Linked DNA regions of Homo sapiens: all the other regions are linked to region 2. The links come from fine-mapping of genetic effects on gene expression. A gene starts in region 2. Each other region holds a variant in brackets. All regions are shown on one strand. Distances are from middle to middle. Region 1 overlaps STIMATE-MUSTN1 (STIMATE-MUSTN1 readthrough). Region 2 holds the start of STIMATE-MUSTN1 (STIMATE-MUSTN1 readthrough). Region 3 overlaps PBRM1 (polybromo 1).

What was found. PIP is the estimated chance that this variant, and not a neighbour inherited with it, causes the effect.
Region 1: its variant is the best candidate, but not a certain one, in a credible set for the expression of STIMATE-MUSTN1 in pituitary (GTEx, PIP 0.80).
Region 3: its variant is the best candidate, but not a certain one, in a credible set for the expression of STIMATE-MUSTN1 in subcutaneous fat (GTEx, PIP 0.55).

What each region holds. Positions count from the first base shown.
Region 1 is chr3:52,835,715-52,843,556 of GRCh38, forward strand. It overlaps STIMATE-MUSTN1 (STIMATE-MUSTN1 readthrough), which reads right to left. Exons shown (of 10, transcript NM_001198974.3): 7 at 7,097-7,246; 8 at 4,786-4,896. It overlaps STIMATE (STIM activating enhancer), which reads right to left. Exons shown (of 8, transcript NM_198563.5): 7 at 7,097-7,246; 8 at 1,019-4,896. The coding sequence ends at 4,780. Among named protein-coding and RNA genes, the nearest start is that of MUSTN1, 4.6 kb to the left of the region's middle. RefSeq lists enhancers at 1,736-1,905, 4,089-4,590. The variant C/T (reference allele first, on the strand shown) is at 4,254.
Region 2 is chr3:52,893,923-52,901,764 of GRCh38, forward strand. STIMATE-MUSTN1 (STIMATE-MUSTN1 readthrough) reads right to left here and starts at 3,626. Exons shown (of 10, transcript NM_001198974.3): 1 at 3,369-3,626. The coding sequence starts at 3,528. STIMATE (STIM activating enhancer) reads right to left here and starts at 3,626. Exons shown (of 8, transcript NM_198563.5): 1 at 3,369-3,626. The coding sequence starts at 3,528. RefSeq lists a silencer at 3,179-3,888.
Region 3 is chr3:52,670,656-52,678,497 of GRCh38, forward strand. The region is part of intron 3 of PBRM1 (polybromo 1); the gene reads right to left. Among named protein-coding and RNA genes, the nearest start is that of PBRM1, 11 kb to the right of the region's middle. RefSeq lists an enhancer at 633-802. The variant C/T (reference allele first, on the strand shown) is at 5,139.

The DNA.
Region 1 (7,842 bases), 58 kb before region 2:
CCATGCTCGATGGTGACAGCACTGATGAGACAGAGGTGTGAAACAGGCTCAGGCTCAGGCCTGAGCCTACTCACCTCCGAGTAGGTGAGGCCACCGCAGGGGGGCTGGCCTGCAGGACAGTTTCAGTTGCTCAAAGAGGGTGGGGGAGAGTGAAGCCCACTCCAGATACTGAGCTGCAGAGACAAGAACAGGCCCAAGGGCTCCCCGGAAGGTCACTTAGCTCTCCTTTGCTAGAAGCTCCTAACACACCCCTCCTTGCAAGGGGAAGATCCCCCAGGGCACAGGCCAGGAGCCTACGCCTGGGGTGGGTATGGGGAATAGGTGTGCATAGGTCGCAGCCCTCCCAGTAACACACATATCTAAGTCCTTTTCAGTTTATGATGGAGATTATTTTTATCCTCGAAGGCTCCAGGCAGATGGAACTCAACCAGGCACTGACATTTGGTTATCCCAAATGCCACTCCATTGCTGTCATACTTTGAACCCCACCCCAATCCCCCTCCTGACACCCTGGCTCCAGGAGGCCAATGAGAGGACTGCCAGGCTTGATCTGAGACAAGTGCTGACATGAGGAATGCCCAGGATGTGGCACATGGGCCAAGAGGCAGCTGAGGGCAGGCCAGGCCTTGTGGGGGCCTTCCACTAGTTCCAGGGGTGCCCCTGCAGATGGCACCTGATGCTGCGGCTCTGCCCAGGGACCTCCTTCCAGCCCCGCAGCCTCAGGGACAAGGATGTGGGCTACTCACTGCTTATACTCTACCTCCCCAACACGATGTCCTCCTCAGAGACGGACTTGCTTTAATTCTCACTAGCGAAGAAGTGGAGATGGACATGGCAAGAGCATGTTTGGCTTTTCACTGGGCAGTTGCTGGCTCCCACTCCTGCCATGAGGCTTCGTAAGGTTCCTTCTCACTCTGGTCCCTGGGGAGAACCTTCTAATTCACAGGGGAATCTTTTTTGACCCTGCCAAGCTGTTTCAACTCCAGAGAACCCACAACCACAACCACAAATGTGATGGTTTCTTTTTAAAAAAAACTGTAATAAGATGCCAAACTTTATTGTAAACCATTTTACAATGTAAGTACATCATCTTCTCTTTCATTTCAAAAAAACGTTTCCATGAATCCTACCACCACCGATTAAGCACCCCCACTGGATGGCTGCTGAAGTGGGCCATGGTTTTCCTTGCATAGGTCTGACTTCTAACAAACTTCAGGAAAAGAAAAATCAAATTTAAAACAACCCAACCAACCAACCACCAACCAACCCAGGAGCTCAAGGTGCTTGTGGCAAGTCAGACCATAAGTCCCTTACCAAAAGCCAAGCCCCTCAGAGCTGCTAATGTTTCACGAAGTAAAACAGAGAGCTCTGCACTCTTAGCTGCAAGCGTGTGAAACTTCTAAAAGCCAGCCCCACATTCTACAAGGCAGCTGCTCTGGCCAGTGGGAAGCTCCTTGCACTGCCTATCTTAGCCTGGCTGCGAAAAGGCCAGTGAACTGCAAGGGCAGAGTGAGCTGCCAGCTGGGCGCTGCTCCCTCCAGGGTTCTGAGGCAGCCTTTGGACATAAACTTGGGGCTGCACCCTACAGGCTTACACTGTCTAAGGGAAGTCACAGCTTGGATTTGAGCCTTTTAATATTTTCCCTGAAGAAAGAGGCATGACAGGTGACATTAACCCATGACTCCCTGTTGCCAGGGAGGGCACAAGTTAAAGCTTGAGGAAGGAGGCCACCAGCACGGCTGAGGGGCCACAGACCCTCCTCTTGCATGTGTGCAAGCTGAGTGGACCAAGAAGCCACCACCACCTGGATCTCACTAACATCCCCCCTTGCCATTGTCAACAACCCTCTGACAGCAAAAGGAAGTAACAGTACCAACCACCTCTTCCATTTGGATATGACAGTTCTACCTCATTAGTTTATTTCCAATAGTTACAAGAAATTTGTTCATGACCTTGACTTGCAAGGTTCCACCACAGGTGGCTTGGCTGAGGTCCAGATTTGGACAAATCAGATTCATAGCACACAATATCCAGCCAACGTCCCACCATTTCTCAACACGGTGATGGATGCCATGTGGCCAGGTGAAGAGCTGCACCTCGTAAGGCACCTTGGAGCAGGTGGAGAGGAAACTCATCCCAGGGAGGGAGGGCAGCTCGGGAGGAAGTCCTGACCACAGCCCTCTGATCTGCTCTCATGGGATGGTGCACCACGGAAGAGCCCCCAGTGACTGCAGGAGGCACTCCTGGGGATACAGATTTGTGTGTGTACATGTGTGTGCACGTGCACGTGCACACACACACACAAACACACAAGAAAGGGAAGGCCAAACACGAGAGGTGTCCTATGGTCAGACACCCTATTAGACCCCCGTCCCCTGGTCAGCCAGCCAGCTACTAGCCACAGCTCAGAGACTAAAGCCCTTTCTGAAAATCAGGATACAGGGAAAAACCACCACTCTTCAGCTACCTCTTTGTTCCCCAAACCCTCTGCTCACTGGGAAGTGGGCAAAGCCTTCAGATGAGACCATCTGAGATCTATATAACCCAGGGTTTGTTTCACAGCTTTCATAGATTATGGCTCTCCTATCCCCTGCCCTGTCTGGAAACATTAGGAGCTCAAGACTGAACATGAAGCTCCAATTGTGAGCTCCAGGAAGGTGGAAGAAACAGCTGCAGGCACAGGTTGTTCAAACCAAAATGAAACAGGAGGGGAGGAATTAGAACTGAGTCAGTGATGCCATGAGGGAATGACCGTCCTGTCAGGAACATGAGTCTTGGTCTTCCTAAATTCGACTGAGAATGGCCTGGTTCTAGCCACTCTTCCCCACTAGAGAGCTGCTGGGGAAATACTGGCTACCATAGCTGTGGATGGGAGGGAGCACAAAGTCAATCCGAGCAGGAATGACACCAGCAAAGTTGCCTCCTACTGTAGTTACAGTCCCTGCTCCTCTCAGCACCCTGGCTCTGCACTCCTGGTGGAAGATGGGCTGAGAAGGCCTGCCTGATGCTCGCCTTCAAGTCCAGGACAGGTAGGGCTCTGAGAGGCAGAGGGCAGTCCCAGGGTACCTGGTTTAACAGCTGGGTTCATGCGCCCAATTCGGACCCAATGTGCTTAAGTGAAACACGTGCTCATGCAGGTCTAAAAGGAAGGTCCTAAGTGGAGTGGCCTCCTCTGCACTTGTCTCACTTGAAGTCCAGGATGTCTCCCTTCTAGCTCATCACACCTTAGCAGTGTGGCTTCCTGTTCCTAACCATCCGTGGCTGCCTCTGAGCTTGACAAACCACCAAGCAGTGCCCCTACCTTGCTGTTTCCACAGCAGGGAAACGGCTGGGGTCAGCCCATTCCACAGTCACTCAGCAAACTCCCAAAACCACAGGGGCCTGTGGCCATGCTGAGGAGTAGTGACCATTCCCCAGGGAGGGGACACGGCCTAGAAGCACCTTGCCCTGCCTGTGGTTTAGAGAGTGAGCTCTCTCACCCCTGCCTCCCTTAGCCACCTCAGCTTTGGAGGGTGAGAAAAACAGGATCACTTTGTGAGGCACATGTTCTCCAGAATGCTGTGCAAAACAAATAGGTGACACTAGGATGACAGGTACCAGGGCAGCAGGAGAGGAGGCTCCTGGCGCTGAGTCCAGAGGCTGGCTCTGAAGGCTGCAGCAGTGGGGGCTGGGAGGCCAAGACCACTTTAAACCGTGATTGGAGGCTCTGCAGACAGGCAGACTGCACAGGAGTCTGGTAGTCTTGGGTCCTCTGGAAACAAAGACCTCTTAGCTAAGCTCCTTTCTTGGTCAAATTTAACTAAGATCTCTAATCTGCCAGCAGGAATGCTAGAGCTCATGGGCCCTGGGCAGAGCCTTTCCTGTTCCACACTCTGCAGCTCCTGGATCTGCATCCAGACCAGCTGCTCCAAGCTTGGGTCTGACCTTCACAGAACCATTGGGTTTGCTGATTCTAGAGAAGGGCCATCCTCCTTCCCTCCCCATCATTTGTCTCATCTTATCATAGGGCATCATCTAATAATATTCCAAATAAAAAACTCCCGATTTTTCCTCCTGCCAGCCCACACCCCATGAAAGGCAAATAAACCCATTTCTTTGGGGACTAAAAAGAGTTTTTAAATACAATAGTATGAAAATATAACTTAAAAATATAAAAGTCAAACAGCATACGGAAGACTTAAAAATCTCTGTTTTGCCCATTAGTCCCGTAAGTACTTTGTAGGAAATAAACACATACCCCCAACCTGGTAACA[C/T]TGTCACAACTCATAAAACCAGCTTCAGAAATCAATAGTTACAAAAGCCATTTTGAGTAAGAAAGCATTCCGGTTCCAACTTGGTCAACGAGTCACTTTTAGCCCGAGGGTGTTATGTGTTCGCACTGCCCACAGCCACGGTGAGGAGACCCACCCACGGTCTGTGTGCCTGTGCTTCCTTCCACCTTGCCACTCGGTGGTCGGACACGGGGCAGGGCCTCAGGTCCCTCACAACACTGTCTGGGACGACAACAAACAAACACAGCTCCTTCCTTGCATATTTGGTCAGTGTTTGTAGTGCAACTGAATGGGGACCTCCAGCCGCCAGTGGCCCCCTCGGGCGCTGGCTCCTCTTCCCTCTTTTTAAGTCACAGTAGTCTGGGGGCAGGCGAGAGCGGGCAGAGACAGCAAGAGGAGCAGAGGTAGAAAGGAAGGGCAGAGAGAGGGTAAGGAACGATGCTGCGGGATGACCTCTGCACACCAGCGGCTGGCGGGGCCCTCCCGTCACCCCCAGCATGGGAATGTGTCATACGGGTAGCCCAAAGCGGTGCTTCTTTTTCTTCACAGGCTTGAGGGGGGTCAGTCTGCGGAGGTCCTCCTCCACGTCGGACTCCTCCATCTCATCATCCGCTGAGATCAGGATCTGAGGCAGTAGAGAGGCAGGGCCTGAGTCACCCCCAGCAGGGCCTTCTTCATTTGCCCTCCCTGGACCCTGGGCCCTTCAAGTCTCATGTTTTTTTTTTTTTTTTTTGGACAGAGTCTCACCCTGTCACCCAGGCTAGAGTGCAATGGCACGATCTCGCCTCACTGCAACCTCTGCCTCCTGGGTTCGAGTGATTCTCCTGCCTCAGTCTCCTGAGTAGCTGATTACAGGTGCGTGGCACCATGCCTGGTTCGTTGTTTTTTTTTGCTACTTTTAGTAGACATGAGGTTTCACCATGTTGGCCAGGCTTGTCTCAAACTGCTGACCTCAAGTAATCCACCTGCTTCGGACTCCCAAAGTGCTGGGATTACAGGCGTGAGCCACCATGCCTTGCCAAGTCTTAATGTTTCTTTACAAGAGAGTGAGGGGAAGCTCCCTGTACTCAATGAGACGTGCTAGCCTCCACAGGCCATGTTCACTCCAAGGACACTCATGGGCTACTGAAGCCAGCACTGAGTCGACAGACCCCCTTCCTCTGCTAATGCTCCCCACTTCTCAGTCCACCTCCAGGGGAACCGACCTCCATCAGGACAAACTCAGCAGGGATCTGCAGCCTAAGGTCACCCTGGCTAAAAAAAGCTCAACCATGACACATGCAGTTGTTGAAGCTGCCTTAAATACTGCAGAGGCAGACTGAAAAGCCCCTTTCAAAAGGAAGAGAAAGCATCTGTGGGCAGGGGGAGTTCAGCGTGGCTGCTCTGAGCCAACTCTGTAACTGCTGAAGACAAACAGCGGCACTTTGCTGTTCTAAGGCCCTGGAATGACTCAGCCATGCAGCTGGGGCAAACACACTCATCCGCTGCCCGCCTGCCTGGCTCCTTAGACCTCTGAATACCAGGGAAAGGTTGGAACCACCTAGGTTGGGATCAGGAGGTCCAAAGCCCACCTATGCAGGGAAACACGAACTCCTATTCTAGGGCAGGGCAGGCAGTCTCACCTCCTCTTCCCTGCACTGTTCCCTTGCGGGGCTTCCTGCCTCTAGTCTCGGTCCCGACCACCACACTCCCACTGCTCCTCACCGCCTGTACGAGCACATCCCAATGCCTCAGCCTGGATCACAGGGCATTGCCGATCTAGCTCAGCCTGTGCCTCACTTCTTGTCCTTCTGTCCTATGCTCCAGAATACAAGCCACAGTGCATTTCACACTATGGCCCAGACACCAAACCATGTGACTGTGAATGCTCATGAGCTGCTGCTTCTGCCCATAACACTGTTTGCCACTCACCTAATGTTCACCAAGCTCTCATATGACAGGTGCTGGCCAGATTCTAGAGACAAGCACCTAGAGAAGACACGGCTTCCCCTCTGTCCTACTATCTATTCGTCTTCTGAAACTCCCTCCAGGCTGTCCCAGGGCCCTCGTTGGGTTCTGCCTATGCCTCAATCTTAGAACATATTACGGTGTCATGACGAAATACTTATGTGTCCACCTGCACCTCACCCACGTGTCTGACAGCCTCTCCGGGGAAGACGTTTGTCTCAGCTTTTCTGCAGCTCCCACCTGCACACTTCCTAGGCCTCCCATGCCTCCCACGAGCTGGCCCTGCACGCAGATGTGGGGTGAGTGCTGCGGGGCCGCCAGAACACATATCCTGGCCTCAGGGCTGCTATTCATGGCCACCGTTCTTCCCTGAGGTCCAAACCCTTGAACTCAGAAGACCAGAAAATAAGGGGGGGATGAGTTTCCTCCTGCAAGGTCTGGCTACCCCTATATTTTAGAAGTTTCCAGCTGTCTGAGCCAACACTTCCCTTGCTCTTTAGTGTTGGGCAGAGATTCAAATATCCTAATGCTTGAAGATCAACCATTAGGCCCATGACGGTCCTTGCCAGCTCACCAAACAAGGCAGAACTTCCCTCTCCTGTCTGTCATCTCCACTGACAGAGGAACTGTCGCAGGCAAGCCACTCCCATCTGCTCTGCCCTCCTGCCCTAGGCAGGCCCAAGGGACAGTGGGAATGGGTCCTGGCTGGACAGAGCTGTCTGCCCCTCGCTCATCTCTGGCTCAGCCTCTTCTCCTGCCCTCTGGCTCGCACTGTGACTCTGCACTCAAGGGAAGAACATACACAGACATGAGACCAGAGACCCCCTTGGGCCAGCGATACGACGGCTTGGGCCCTTGGAGAGTCAGGGAGGCCCTACCTCAGACTCAGACTCCTCGTGGGATGCGGCCCTCCGGTAGCGGACCTTGCTCCCATTCCTCGAGTCCTGGTTGGCTCCCCTTTCTTCTAGCTTAGCTTTCGTCTTCCCCTTTCTCATGAGGAAATTGTCCACTACCCAAAACATCAAAGCCTGTGGGAAGGAAAAGTGCAGGTTACTTTGGGATAAACCATTTTTCAAAGCAAAGCCGAACAGCCCCCATCCGCCCACTCCCATTCCAGGTTATAAGATCCAGAGCTATGGAAAGAAAAACCCAATCCAATCACCCTGCTCTCTCCCAAAGCTTAGAAAGAGATTCCCAGTCTCCACATCCTCGGGTTCAGTTTTCTGATCAGAGTGTGCAAGGAACGTGCCCTGACGGGTTTTTGTTGTGGTAACTAGGGGGAACAGCCTGTTTGGGGCCTGGAAGCAAGGTCTCTGGACACGCGTTCCAGGCCCCTCCCCACAGACTCCATGTGGGTGGCCGGCACACCCTGCTGTCATCTGTTTGTCCCAGCTTCCCTCACCACTTCTGTTTCTTAACTTCGAGCCATTGTGCTCGGGAGTTTCTCAAGATCCGTGGTCAGGAATGAACGATGGGTACGTTTGGAACAATCCTGAACTAGAGGCTGGCGCTACACATGGGTGGGGCTTCTTGGTGGGAGGCCCCTCGGCAGGGAGGACAAGACAAAGCTCCCAGGCCCCTCCATCCTGGACGGGAGCCCTGGTATGGGGCCCTGCCTTTTGAG
Region 2 (7,842 bases):
CACACACACTGGCCAACACGACCTTTGGCTGACAGCTGGTTGGCTACCCTGCACTGGAACAGTTTGCTGAGCTCTAGGACTGCTTAGCTCTGTTCTGCTGAGACCCTAGCTGAGCAACTTTGTCAAGTCACAGACTATAGACAAAACCACCAAAACGAGGAATTGCTTAAAACCACCAAAACGAGGAATTGCTTGGCAAAGCCCCCTCGTTTAAAGCGTTTCTTTCTATGCAGATACCTAGCAGACACTTCAGAAAACTCTAAGTGGAAAGTATCTTCATAAGCTTGTCTCTGAGTATGTTCATCTTTCCTTGCGTACACAGGGTACCTTAGCTGGAGCCTCTAGGAAGCCCGCCAACTCAACAAGGCAGTGCTGACACTGGGACATGTGTGTGGGTGGTGCCTGTAACAGTCTGCATGTTTATGCAGCTTGAATAATGGGCTACCATGTATGACCTGGCATATACATTCTCAACTGCCTGGACCAAGAGGGTCTATAAACCCTACATAGTAAGGCAAGAAGTCTATCAAAGCACCAGAATGAGAAATTCTTGCAGAACCAGAATCCTCCCCAGAGACATTAATATATATAAGTAATCTTCCTTCAGGACAAACCTCTCCAGATTAAAAACAAAGAAACAAACAAACAAAAACAAGGCAACGTGTAAGTGGAGAAAAAAGTGATTTTTCTGGATAGAAAAAGGAACATAAAGACAGTGGTCTGAGGGGTCACTGAAATCAGGGAGGTGAAGTAAGGAAAACTACCTCACAGCTTGTCTGCAGAGAAATGGGTTCATTCTACAGTCAGAGCTGGTCCAACAGGAAACAATAGTGTTGGCCATCAGGACTGGGGAAGCGTTCCAGAAGACAGGCAGTGAGCCCATTGCCTCGAGGGCCACGGGTACTCAGAAGGGAAAAGACTGTGATCTCAAAAACAGCCCCTCAAAGGACAACGGCTGTTTAAACTGCTCAGAACAGACTGGTTGGTATTTAAAATGTTTGAAGATAACAGAACTGAGGAAGGATGGAGTGGCCTCACCTTAACACACACTAAGACTTCCCTCCCTCAGGGCTGCGAGGGGGACCCTCGTCAGGGGAGCCTGGCCTTCAACAGATGCCCCTCCTGGCAGCTCCGCCAGACTGAGAAGGACGGAGGACTAATAGCCCAGGACAAAGCCAAATGGCTCGCAGATGTACTTCCTTAAGGCTACCTTGATCTCGTTCCTCTTCCACCTTAGAGATTTCTTCCTCTTCCCAGTAGTTCAAGAAGGAAAAGCCTCGCAGTTCTATTTCAACAGGACCAAGAAATCTGAGAGATAAGAAGGGCCCCACCCTGACTGCATCCCAGTCAGTGGGCTTCTTCTTGTCCAGCTCCCAGAGTACCATTGCCCTGGCCTGCTCTGTCTGCTTCTAGGTAGGGGGAGGAGGCTCTTGCTCTCACCTCCATTTCTGTGTCAGGGCAGACATAGCTCTAGCCTTTCCAGCTCTTCTCCCCATCACTCCTACCCACATCACCCCAGGACCCACCAGCCATTTCCACAAGCTCCGTCCACGTCAAGCCTCACAGTGAACAAGAGACTGCTTTCTAGTTCAATCTCTGCACACAGAAAGTACCAACCACAGTGGGATTTGCACATGTGCTCACGCTGAAGATTAAGTAAAGAAGTGAATATGTCCCTGAAGACTCCACTCAGAACACATTCAACCCGATACACTTCTCAGCTGTGAGCAACTCTGCCCTGTCATCATCACATTTCCTTCTCTGAATCACAAGTGTCAAACCCTAGGGGACAAGCCGGGCCATCAGCATCAATCAAACCTATGGAAACAGCCAGAGCTAGGCTAAGAAACCTCAGGTTAGGGAGCAAAAGAAAAATTTAACCTACACTTCCTTCAGAGAGAAAGGAAGGCTGTCTGGAGGACAGAGAAGTAGGAGGGGTATGAAGATCCACTCACCATGTCTTGAAAACACACACGTACAGTACATGCGCCCAAGTCAGCAGCGGATTTTGGCTAAGTTGTCACAAATTATTACTGTGGGAACAAGTGGGTATTTGTTTAGCAGAGAAAAAGCAAGGCAAGTTGGGACTAAAAAGGAAAGAAAAAGTGGCAAACATAGACAGTTGGGCACTTATAAGACTTATCAAGGACAGGCCACCAGAAGAACGCGGTATCCATGATCAGAGCCTCTTCAGGGTTACTTAAAGCCTGAGAGAATTCACTCAAAGAAACCCCAAGTTATAAACAAGCAAGGTGGCCACTCCAGCAACTGGACCCCACAAGACAAAGGCACACAGCTGCAAGATCCCTCCTGAGTACCCCAAAGCATACTTTCTGCAGGAACTCTCCACTCTGTCCACACAAGCACAGTGGGGAAGTTTTGAGAACAAGTCATTTTTGGAATTAATGACTCTGCACAGATAGTTATAACCTTTCCTTCCCCCTAAAACGCAGTCACAAGGGCACTCCTAGGCTTACATGTCGAGCAAAACTTCTTGTTACTTTAATAAGGGAAGGATGCACACGATGAAAAACAGAAGCCCCCCCCCACCCCCCATCAGCACACATGAGAACAGGGTGGGGGCTTCCTTCTCTATTCAGCCACTAAGGTGCCCAAGTTTAATGGAAAAGGAAACTTAAAATATAAAGAATAAAAGTGGAAAGGGAACAGCCAGGGGAAGCTATAGATGCGGCTTATTAGGAAAGCTTGGGACAGAGATGGAACAGGTGGGCCTGTTCCGGAAGAAACGAGAGGAAGGGGATCTGGGGAAGAAGGCAGACTGGGTGGGTCCTACCCTGACAAAAGGGAAACTAAAGCTGAGGAAGAAGGGCCACGGAGAGGGAGGCGGGTACTGGGAAACGGAAGGCATGGCCCTAACACTCCAGGTGTTGAGAGGGATGCAAAGTAGCAGGATTTAAATGTGAACGGAGAAGGCAGATCCTTGAAGAGTGAAGGGGCAGAAAAGAGCTCAGCATCGCACTGGGGATTGAGGGATGTGGGTTCTAAGCACGAAGAGCCCCTGAGAAGGGGCGGACAAGGGGATGTCACCCTTGGGGGTCATGATTCCAGGCTGGGAAGTGGGGTAACAATTCGAGATGGTAAGGTGGGAGGTAGGCGAGTTTTAGACTGGCGTCTCAAAAGACAGACGTTTAAGGTGGAAAGGGGAAGGGTCACTCCTGTCTGGAGGCCACAGCGAGTAGGTGAGGGGCTCGGGCTACCCCTAGTGCAGGAATACCCAGCCTGGGTTTGCGGGGGAGGAGCAATTCGGGTCCCAAGGCCTGAACTCTCCGCGCAGGAGGGGCCCCCAGGGGGGCCGGGCCGCGGCTGCCGCGCAGGGCCTCCGGAGGGTCGGGGGGTCCCAGACTCACGCATTAACGTGCTGAAGGCCACGACGCCGAGCAGCCCCTGCAGGAAGATGCCGAAGCTGTGCATGAGCGCGCCGCTCTCGCAGCGGCCCGCCCCGGACGCGACTGTGGAGGGCGGCCCGCCTGGCAGTCCCCGGCTCGCGTTCCCGGCGGGGCCCTGCATGACAGGCCTCGCGGGAGGGGCGCGAGGGCCCAGGGCCCGCCCGGCCTCGCTGCCTGCCGGCGCAGCGCCGCCAAACCCGCAGCCGGGATCCCAAGCCTGAGCCGGTACCTCCGCCCGGCCGCCGACTCCGCGCCGCGCGTAACCCGACGTCTGAGATCGCAGTGCCTGATTGGCGCAGCCAAGGTTGGGGCGGGCCTCGGCCGCGGCAGCTCTCCCCACCCGCCCCCGAGGGGCGGGGCTCCGGCCGGGCCACGGGGCGGGGTCGCGGGTCCCGCTCCCCTCTCCAACCCCGCCACGCCCGCAGGTAGACAGGCCAGGTGAGCCGGCCACCGCAGACCGGAATGAGAGCCTGGGAATCACGAGCTCCAGGTCCGGAGGTAGGAGCTGGGACGGCCTGTGGTCAAATTATTTTTCCCTCTAAGGAAAATCCCTATATCCTGGAGAAATTATCATCATTCCTGAATTCCACCCTCAGAGATCGTGATTCAGTAGTTCTGGGGTGGGTCCCAATAGTTTGCAGCCTGGATTATTCTGAAGCAAGTGAATAAGGAAAACAATCTGAGACTGAGTACAGGAGTCTTCCCTCCAACCCAGACATTTGAGTCTTTTTCCTACTTCCCTAGCTAAAGGCTTATCAAGGCCCCAAGTCTATTTTCTTTTTTCATAGACATAATTTAAATGGTCACCTGAATCCAATCACTTTCATTTGGAAATATACCAGGTTTCACACTGAAAACCTGACGTGCACATGTCCCACCTTATTCACTTGGGGAGCACAACTACCTTTAGAGTGTAAAAGACAAATGGTTGGTATTTTCCAGGCTCCAACATCCCCCTGCACACACACACTCCCATCTAACCCTTTCCAACTTCTCAGAACCTGTGCTCTGCCTTTAACAAGACCCTGAGTCCCCATTCTCTCACCCATTCTCCCAGCCCAATCTGGGCTCTCTCTGGATACCTTCTTGTTGGTGCTCTAGAGCCGCTGACCTTCCTGCTGCAGAATGTCAGTGAACACATGGTGTAAGTCCAGTTGACACTCACCCATTCTCCCAGCCCAATCTGGGCTCTCTCTGGATACCTTCTTGTTGGTGCTCTAGAGCCGCTGACCTTCCTGCTGCAGAATGTCAGTGAACACATGGTGTAAGTCCAGTTGACACTCACCCATTCTCCCAGCCCAATCTGGGCTCTCTCTGGATACCTTCTTGTTGGTGCTCTAGAGCCGCTGACCTTCCTGCTGCAGAATGTCAGTGAACATATGGTGTAAGTCCAGTTGATACTGAGCTACGTGTTTTCAACGGTAAATATCATCTCTAGGAAAAAGTTTCCTATTAAATAGCCCCCCAAATTCCAATTACCTAAGAGGGTTATATGCTAGCTAAAAGCTTTCTTGGTGAACAGGAATATTAACCTGATTAGAGAATAAAAATGCAATTCTCCAGCCTTCTCTTACATTTTCACACCTCTGTGCCTTTATGTAGCATTCTAGCTGCATGGATGCCATTCCCTTTTCCCTGCTCCATGAACTGCTCCTCATGTGTCAAAGCCTTTCTGACCTCCCTCTCCCTCTTGCTCCCACATTACCTAGTGTGTACTGTTCCACCAAAACTTTTCAGACTGCTAAATTTGACAGCTGTACACATGTCTCTCTCCCACAGCTAAGTGTGAGCCTCCTGAGGGCAGGAATTATTTTTATTTACCCTTCAATTCAAATTCAGTATGGTGCCTGGTACAGAGAACATGCGACAAAATGCTTAATTTAAATGGAATTTTAATTTATAAAATTTTAAACTCTCCACAAGTACTGGCCGTGGGCAAATACAGAAAATCAGATTAAAAAAATAAATGGATAAGGGAAAATTAAAATTGCATGACTGTCTTTTAGTCTAAGAGGGATCTTATGAGGATGCTCAACAGTTAACAGTACATGTTTAGAGAGAACCAAACAAGAGGCTACGTCTTAAAGCAGAATAGATTGTGGTTGGGCATAAGGAGACTATTGATTGCTTGAAGACACAGACAGCTCAAGGAAAATTGGACATAGAGCTGAAAAGTGATGTTTTTGACAAAGAATTGTTCTGCACATCCAGCTGTGGAGGAATCCTTAAGGCTCACAGAGGAACAAACAAGAAGCAGTCTTCAGAGATCAGGGGCGGAATCCCCAATGTCAGGAGCAAGGTTGCTGTGGGGAAATTCTACTCTTCCTATCTTTCCTGAACTGGAATTAAAAAGCACCTAAATCCAGAAGGTAAAGGATGAGACAGCAAGAGAGGGGGAAGAATTCCGGAGTTTTATTAAAGTAGGAAGGAACTTCTCATCTATTTGGAAATGATTCTCTGAGGTCCCGCTGGAAAGAGTTTTAAAAAATTTACTCTGGCCAAAATGCCTTCCTTGTTGTCAAATCAGCACAAAGTTAAGGTTAAACATAGCTTAAGACCTGTTCTCTTTAGTTTTCTCACAACCACTTAAAACTGTCATAACGTACCACCAGTTTATATACAATCATATTTACAAAAAAAACACGCAAAATATTAATCCAAAATAGTTTTTTTTAATCCTTTGAAGTTATACCATCAAACTTGATGGTAGTTATTTTAATAGGTATTCTTGTGCATACTTCTTAAGTGTACTTTTATCTTTAATGCATAACTTTTGAAATTAAGAGGAAAAACAGCAAGCAGGAAGGATACAATGCAATAAGCATTTGATTTTGTTCTAAATGAGCAGCTTTAAAAAAAAAAGGTAAAATACATTAAACAAAGTGCATCAGTTCCAACAAGTTAGTATTAAAAAGAGGCCTAAGGACAGTGCTGGAACCAGCCAGGAGTCCCTCCCTGGCAGGCCTCTGATTGTCTTCAGAGAATATTCAATGAAAAAAAAAAAAAAAAAAAAAAGGAAGAAAGGAAGGGAGGGGAAAAGAAATGAGCACTTGAAATCTCAAGGGAAACATTCAAACTACCGTCTCCAGAGATTCTTGCAAAAGGAGCTAATGGACTGCCCAACTTTAACTCTGCCTAAGCTTTGTAACCTCCCTCAATCATCTGCTTTGTGACTTGATTTGCCCTAAAAGCCTACCCTCATCCTTTCAGCACTTTTGTCCACCTCCATTCTGCCAAGCTAGGTATGCAGTTAGATTGAATAAACCATGTAGAAACCCTCAGGCCTGAGTTTCCACACATCCTGAGAACAGGCACCCCCATCAGCAAATGGTGGCACCATTTCACTAGAAGGCACCATTTGCCTCCAGAAATAATGGGAGACCCTTGCCTCCCACAGATCAGGGTCCGTGCTTTTCTGCTGGTGTTGGAGACTTATCTGGCAAGGCTGTGGCTTGCTTCTCTCTTAAAACAGTCCTTTGTGATAGGCCATAGCACCAGGACAGACCCAATGGTGTATTAAGTCAAAAAAGACTCAAGAAGAGGGAGTTTTAGGCCTACTTCTCTATCTCCCCAACTCTCCACTCCTGGTTTTGCTGGTTCTTGTGAAAATCTCAGGCTTCTTAAACACCATACCCAAGAAAATGACTCTGCAGTGCATTTGCTGCCCACCACCTTCTACACCTCCCCATAAAGCTGCCCTCAGAAACAAGGCTACCTGTGTGGTCTGGGACAAGTACTGAAAAAACACCCCTGAAACCACCCTTGGAGTGGGCCTGGAACCAGATCCAGTTCGACTGAGCATTGAATTTAAAACTTATGCCCAAACTCTAAGTCATAGGTAGCTTGTTTGGATAAATTCAAGTTTCCAAAGTATGCACATTCTCACATAAGGGGTGGGAGTCATCAAAACTCACTAGTAAAACATCTAAAGTGAACAAAGTCAAGGAAGAATTATAATCGCAGGAAAGTAACATTTCTTTTTGGTTTTGCAGGAGGCTCTCTGTCCTACGATTTCTGAGTCAGCACCATGACAAACATATGGTTGCTTACAGTGGACCCAGGAGCAAGGAAATCCAAGCTTGCAAAGGGGGCATCTGGTCCCCACCAAGATTTGTACTTCATTTTTTGTAGTGATGCCTTCTACTCATTTAACTTCATAAGACCAACAGATTTCCTACTGATAACACAGAACACTTCTGAACTGGTGTGTGCACACACGGCACATCCTCAATATACAGGATCAGAGTTCAAATCCAGGGTGTGTTCCACTGTTGATCAATTAAACCAGTAAATGGTGTCTCAAATAGAACAATCTTTGGTGATATAGGTGCCAAGTAAATATAATTGCCTGTGATAGTTTTCCCAAATGTTCCCATCTAGATTGCCTGATATTCTATGTGTCCCTCAGAAACACTTTTTGGCTTGAGAGAGGGAA
Region 3 (7,842 bases), 220 kb before region 2:
TTCTTCCCAGGATGACAGCATTCTAAGCTGCTGCATGGCTACTAAAGACTATATTCTCAGCCAGCATGGTGTTGCATGCCTGTAGTCCCAGCTACTTGGGAGGCTGAGGGAGGACTGCTTGAGCCCAGGAGGTCAAGGCTGTAGTGTGCAAAGATGGTGCTGGTGAGTAGCCTGCATTCCAGCCTATGTGACATGGTAAAACCTCGTCTCTAAGGAAAACAAAGCAAAACAAAACCTTAAAGACCATATTTATTCTCCAGCCTCACTGCAGCTAGATTCTAGCCAATACGAGAGCTGAAGTGTGTCATATCCAAGTCATGTCCTTAACATTCATTCTTTTTCCATACTGGCTGGAAGGCAGTTGTGGTAGTGAGTCATCTCAGACCATGCAGGCAAGGGTGATACCACAAAGACCGCAGAATAGAGTTGGCTAATACTTGTACCTTGACAACTTCACAGAACAGGACTTTTACACAAGAGAAATAAATTTCTCTTTTGTTTCAGCCATTGTTGATTTGCATGTCCTAGCACAAAGCAGACTAATACAGTAACTGAAACAAAGTATCAAAAAGATATTCACAAATTGTGTAGCTCTGAGCAATACTAATTCTCATAAATACTTGAGAAAAAAACATACATTCCACAGAGGAGCGTCAGAAAAAAGGCACCATTATCTTCGAGGTTGTAACATGACAGTGGTCCAGCACCCAAGGTGTGTATCCTCTGCCCCTCAGCACTCGCCTGCCAGCAAAAAGGAGGCAGCAGAGGGACGGTATCTTCTATAAAAGTTGTTTTGTATACTTCAGTGTGATGCTGCTACTCTATACCACATAATGGTTAAGAGCACAGGCTTTGGAGTCAGAACGACTTTAGTCTGAACACCAGTTATCTTTTAGTAGTTACAAGAACTTGTGCAAGTTCTCACCTATAAACTGTGATAACTCAGAATTTTAAATAAGATATGATTGGGAAAATGCTTGGTATTGTGTCTAGAATGTGGCAAACAATAAATACATGCTTTTACTACTTTATGCTAATTAAATGACAACTTTCAGAAGACTATTATTGATAAACCAACTCAAATATGGAGACAGTTACCTCATTTTAAAAACAATGCTTCCTTTTTGGCCATGGCTAATTTGCTAATTTACAGGGCTCTCCTAATTCAGGATGATGACACTGCATTCTCAGTGGCTTGCTCGTTGAGGTGAGAAATTTGCCTCCAGTTCAACTTAGAGCTTGGTAACTACCCACTGTAGCATCAACAATCATGAATGAATCTAAATCTTTAGTTAACTCACAGCTTTCTACAGCTGCTGTAACAAATTACCACAAACTTCAGGGCTTAAAACAAAACCCATTTATTATATTAGTTCTAGAGGTCAGAAGTCCAAAATGGGTCTCACTGGTCTAAAATCAAGGTATTAGCAGGGCTGCATGCCGTCTGGATGTTCTAGTACGGAGCATCTAGCGAAAAAGGTTTCCTTGCCTTTTTCAGCTTCTAGAGCTCACCTGCATCCCTTGGCTTGTAGTCTCCTTCCTCCATCTTCAAAGCCAGCACTACAGCATCTTCAAATCTCTGACTGAACTTGTCTCCCTCTTCCCCATTTAAGGACCCTTGTGATTACACTGGACCCACATGGATAATCCAGGATAACCGCTCCAATTCAAGATCAGCTGATTAGCAAACTTAATTCCCCTCTGCCATGTAACACAATATATTCACAGGTTTCAGGGATTAGAATGTGGAAATATTTGGGCACCAGTTTTCTGACTAACACACTCATATACGTTTTCAGAACAAATAACTTCAATTTCCAGAGGTTTTTTTTTGGCTTTTTTTTTTTTTTTTTTTTGAGTCAGAGTTTCACTCTTGTTGCCCAGGCTGGAGTGCAACAGCGTTATCTCCGCACACTGCAACCTCTGCCTCCTGGGTTCAAGTGATTCTCCTGCCTCAGCCTCCCGAGTAGCTGAGATTATAGGTGCACACCACCACGCCCGGCTAATTTTGTATTTTTAGTAGAGATGGGCTTTCTCCATGTTGGTCAGGCTGGTCTCGAACTCCTGCACTCAGGTGATCCACCTGTCTCGGCCTCCCAAAGTGTTGGGATTACAGGCATGAGCCACCACGCCTGGCCAATTGCCAGAGTTTTGAAGAGAATAGTGATTATATTTTGACAGCAAGAGAGGAAAGATGTTCTAGTTAGGGGAACATACCTTCCATAGGAAGTTGTGTGCAAGATGCCTCTCTGTGTAATTTAAAAAACTGATCCCTTTTAACTATCACTGTGACAACTTCAATACAGTCTTAAGAGCTATTAATTTTTTTTATTAATTTTTAATTTTTTTGAGACGGAGTTTTGCTCTTATTGTCCAGGCTGGAGTGCAATGGTGCAATCTCAGCTCACTGCAACCTCCGCCTCCCGGGTTCAAGCAATTCTCCCACCTCAGCCTCCCAAGTGGCTGGGATTACAGGCACCCACCACCACGCCCGGCTAATTTTTGCATTTTTAGTAGAGACAGGGTTTCACTATGTTGGCCAGGCTGGTCTCGAACTCCTGACCTCAAGTGATCCACCCGCCTCAGCCTCCCAAAGTGATGGGATTACAGGCATGAGCCACCGCGCCCAGCCATAAGAACTATTAATTTTTATACTGCCTATGTGAACCAGGTGTTAAAAAACAAAATGAAACAAAAAAATTAAATAATTTAAAAAACATGCTTCACTCTCGGCCAGGTGCAGTGGCTCATGCCTGTAATCCCAGCACTTTGGGAGGCTGAGGCGGGTGGATCACCTGAGGTCAGGAGTTCGAGACCTGCCTGGCCAATATGGCAAAACTCCGTCTCTACTAAAAGTACAAAAAAAATTAGCCAGGCATAGTGGTGTATGCCTGTAATCCCAGCTACTCGGGAGGCTGAGGCAGGACAATTGCTTGAACCCAGGAGGTGGAAGTTGCAGTGAGCCAAGACTGTGCCACTGCACTCCAGCCTGGGCAACAGAGTGGGACTCCATCTCAAAAAAAAAAAAAAAAAAAAAGCTTCTTTCTCAAGGAATTAGAGAAAAGAAGAGCAAACTAAACCCAAAGCTAGCAGTAGATAATAAATAGAAAGGAGGGCCAGTGCAGTAGTTCATGCCTATAATCCCAGCACTTTGGGAGGATGAGGTGGACAGATCACTTGAGGTCAAGAGTTTAAGACCAGCCTGGGCAACAAAGTGAAACCCTATCTCTACTAAAAATACAAAAATTAGCCAGGCATGGTGGCACACGCCTGTAATCCCAGCTACTTGGGAGGCTGAAGCATAAGAATCACTTGAACCTGGAAGGCAGAGGCTGCAATAAGCCATGATCACGCCACTGCACTCCAGCCTGGGCAACAGAGCAAGACACTGTCTCAAAAAAAAAATATATATATAGATATATATATAGAATGCAGATAAACGAAATTAGAGAATAGAAAAACAATTTTAAAAATTAAACAGTTGGTTTTTTTAAAAGATCAACAAAATTGGTAAACACTTAGCTAGATTAACTAAGAAAGAAAGAGCTGAGCACGGTGGCTCACGCCTGTAATGCCAGCACTTTGGAAGGCCAAGGTAGGCGGATCACCTAAGGTCGGGAGTTTGAGACCAGCCTGACCAACATAGAGAAACCCTGTCTCTACTAAAAATACAAAATTAGCTGGGCGTGGTGGCCCATGCCTGTAATCCCAGCTACTCGGGAAGCTGGGGCAGGAGAATCGCTTGAACCTGGGAAACGGAGGTTGTGGTGAGCCACAATCGAGATCGCACCACTGCACTCCAGCCTGGTGCGAAACTCCATCTCAAAAAAAAAAAAAAAAAAGAGAGAGAGAGGCTGGGTGTGGTGGCTCACACTTGTGATCCTAGCACTTCGGGAGGCCAAGGTAGGAGGATCACTTGAGCCCAGGAGTTTGAGACCAGCCTGGGCAACACAGGGAAACCCTGTCTCTACCAAAAAAAAAAAAAAAAATATATATATATATATATATATACACACACACACACACATATATCTCCTTACCTAACATTACATACGTTATTTTTTAATATGTATGTAGCGTTAGGTAAGAATCCAGCATATTTTTACATATATAAATAAAAAATACGTTATATATACAATATATATATTTTATGTGTTTACTATATACATACACACGTATATATAACATATATATTAGCCAGGTATGGTAGCATCAGGTGAGAGGACTGCTTGAGTCCGGGAGGTTGAGTCTGCACTGAACTGTGATTGCCACTGCACTCCAGCCTGGGTGCCAAAGCAAGATCCTGTCTCAAAAAAAGACAGAAAGGAGGAGGGAGGGAGGGAAGAAGTAAGGGAGAAAAGAGATGCAAATAACTAAAATCATAAAGAGGAGACATTACAACCAATGCCACAAAAATAAAAAGGATTATGAGAGTTCTAGGAAAACATGTATGCCAACAAATTAGATAAACTAGAAGAAATGGATAATTTCCTAGAAACACACAACCTACTAAAGACATACAAAGCCTGAGTAAACCTATAACTAGTAAGGAGACTGAATCAGTAATAAAAAATCTCCCACAAAGAAAATCCCTAGACTGATAGCTTCACTGATGAATTCTAACCAGACATTTCAAGAACTAACACACCAAGCCTTATGAAACTTTTCCAAAAAATTGAAGAGGCGAGGTCACGTCCTAACTTATTCTATGAAGCTAGCATTACTCTGATACCAAAGCCAGACAAAGATACTACAAGAAAACTACTGATCAATATCCCTTATGAATACTGATGCAAAATTTCTCAATAAAATATTAGCAAACTGAATTCAGCAGGATATTAAAAGGATTATATACCATAACCAGGTGGGATTTATTCCACAGTGAACAAGGTGTTGAAGTGGTGAAAGTGGGCATCTCTGTCTTGTTCGTGATCTTAGAGGAAAAGCTTTAAGTATTTTGCCACTGAATATGTTGTTCACAGTAATCAAAATGTGTGCTACTGGTATAAAAACAGACACAGGGACCAATGGAATAGAATGGAGCCTAGAAACGACCCTCACATACACGGTCAAGCAAATTTTGACAAAGGCGCCAAAACCATTCAATGAGAAAAGCACAGTCTTTTCAACAAACGATA[C/T]CGGGAAAACTGGATACACACATATAAAGAATGAAGCGGGGGCCGGGCGCGGTGGCTCACGCCTGTAATCCCAGCACTTTGGGAGGCCGAGGCGGGCGGATCACGAGGTCAGGAGATCGAGACCATCCCGGCTAAAATGGTGAAACCCCGTCTCTACTAAAAATACAAAAAATTAGCCGGGCGTAGTGGCGGGCGCCTGTAGTCCCAGCTACTTGGGAGGCTGAGGCGGGAGAATGGCGTGAACCCGGGAGGCGGAGCTTGCAGTGAGCCGAGATCCCGCCACTGCACTCCAGCCTGGGCGACAGAGCGAGACTCCGTCTCAAAAAAAAAAAAAAAAAAAAAAAAAAAAAAAAAAAAAATAATGAATGAAGCGGGATCCTTACCTAAACACTACTTATAAAAATTCAAAATGGATCAAAGGCCTAAATGTAAGAGCTAAAACTATAAAACTCTTAGAGGAAAACCAATACAGTTTGGCTGTATCCCCATTCAAATCTCAGCTTGAATTGTTATCTCCTAGAATTCCCACATGTTGTGGGAGGGACCCAGAGGGAGGTAACTGAATCATGGAGGCCAGTCTTTCCCGTGCTATTCTCGTGATAGTGATTAAGTTGCATGAGATCTGATGGGTTTATTAGGGGTTCCCACTTTTGCTTCTTGCTTATTTTTCTCTTGCCACTGATGTAAGAAGTGCCTTTCACCTCCCACCATGATTCTGAGGCCTCCCCAGCCATATGGAACTGTAAGTTCAGTTAAACCTCTTTTTCTTCCCAGTCTCGGGTATGTCTTTATCAGCAGTGTGAAAACCAACTGATACAGTAAATTGATACCAGTAGAGTTGGGCGCTGCTGAAAAGATACCCGAAAATGTGGAAGCGACTTTGGAACTGGATAACAGGCAGAGGATGCAACAGTTTGGAGGGCTCAGAAGAAGACAGGAAAATGTGGGAGTTTGGAACTTCCTAGAGACTTGAATGGCTTTGACCAAAAGCCTGATAACAATACGGACAATAAGGTCCAGGCTGAGGTGGTCTCAGATGGAGATGAGGAACTTGCTGGGAATTGGAGTAAAGGTGACTTTTGTTATGTTTTAGCAAAGAGACTGGGGCATTTCGCCCCTGCTCTAGAGATCTGTGGAAGTTTGAACTTGAGAAAGATGATTTAGGGTATCTGGCAGAAGAAACTTCTAAGCAGCAAAGCATTCAAGAGGTGAGTTGGGTACTGTTTAAGGCATTCAGTTTTATAAGGGAAGCAGAGCATAAAAGTTTGGAAAATTTGCAGCCTAGTCCTGTCCAAGAGAACCCTGATTAATACAAAAACATAGGGGAAAAGCTTCATGATATTGGATTTGGCATTAATTTCATGGATATGACACCAAAGGCACAGGCAACAAGAGAAAAAGACAACATAAACTTCATGAAAATTAAAACCTTTTGTACATCTAAGGACACCGTACAAAATGAAAAGGCAACCTACAGAATGGCTCTATCACCCAGGCTGGAATACAGTGGCGGGATCTCAGCTCACTGCAACCTCTGCCTCCCAGGTTCAAGCAATTCTCCTGCCTCAGCCTCCCAAGTAGCTGGGATTACAGGCGCCCCACCACCATGCTCGGCTTTTTTTTTTTTTTTTTTTTTGAGATGGAGTTTCACTCTTGTCACCAAGGCTGGAGTGCAACGGTACGATCTCGGCTCACTGCAACCTCCACCTCCCGGGTTCAAGTGATTCTCCTGCCTCAGTCTCCCAAGTAGCTGGGATTACAGGCGCCCACCACCAAGCCTGGCTAATTTTTGTATTTTTAGTAGAGACGGGGTTTCACCACGTTGGCCAGGCTGGTCTCAAACTGCTGACCTCAGCTGATCCACCCGCCTTCGCCTCCCAAAGTGCTAGGATTACAGGAATGAGCCATTGCGCCCAGCCTTGCACCTGGCTAATTTTTGTATTTTTTAGTAGAGACAGGGTTTTGCCATGTTGGCCAGGCTGGTCTCGAACTCCTGGCCTCAGGTGATTTGCCCACCTATAGACCTCCCAAAGTGGTGGGATTACAGGCGTGAGCCACTGTGCCTGGTCAGTACTCTTTTTTAAATATTTATTTTTAGGCAAGCTCTTGCTCCATCACCCAGGTTGGAGTGCAGTGACACTCATGGCTTACTGCAGCCTCAAATTCCCAGGCTCAAACAATCCTACCACCCCAGCCTCCCTAGTAGCTGGGTCTATAGGTGAGCACCACCACACCTGGCTAATTTTTCAAAAAATTTTTTGTAGAGATGGGTCTCACTATGTTGCCCAGGCTGGTCTCAAATTCTTGGCCTCAAGAGATCTTTCCGCATAGGTCATTTTTTTTGTTTTTGTTTTTAAGAGACGGGGTCTCATTATGTTGCCCAGGCTGGTGTCATACTCCTTGGATCAAGCAATTCTCTTGCCTTAGTCTCCCATGTAGCTGGGATTACAAGTGCATGCTCCTGTGCCTGGCTCAAAAAATCAAGTAGCTGGGATTATAGGTGCATGTTACTGTGCCTGGCTCAACAGATTTTTAATTTAAAAAAAGCTTCACTACAGCTTGATTACTAAAGACTAAAGACTAAAATTGGACCCCAGTATCATTTAAGCCATTCCTGCCAACAAAAAGCTCAATTTCCAAACACTTTAATACACATGGACTCTGGACCAAATCCCCCGCAACTGTACTGATGTGCTTCGAACTC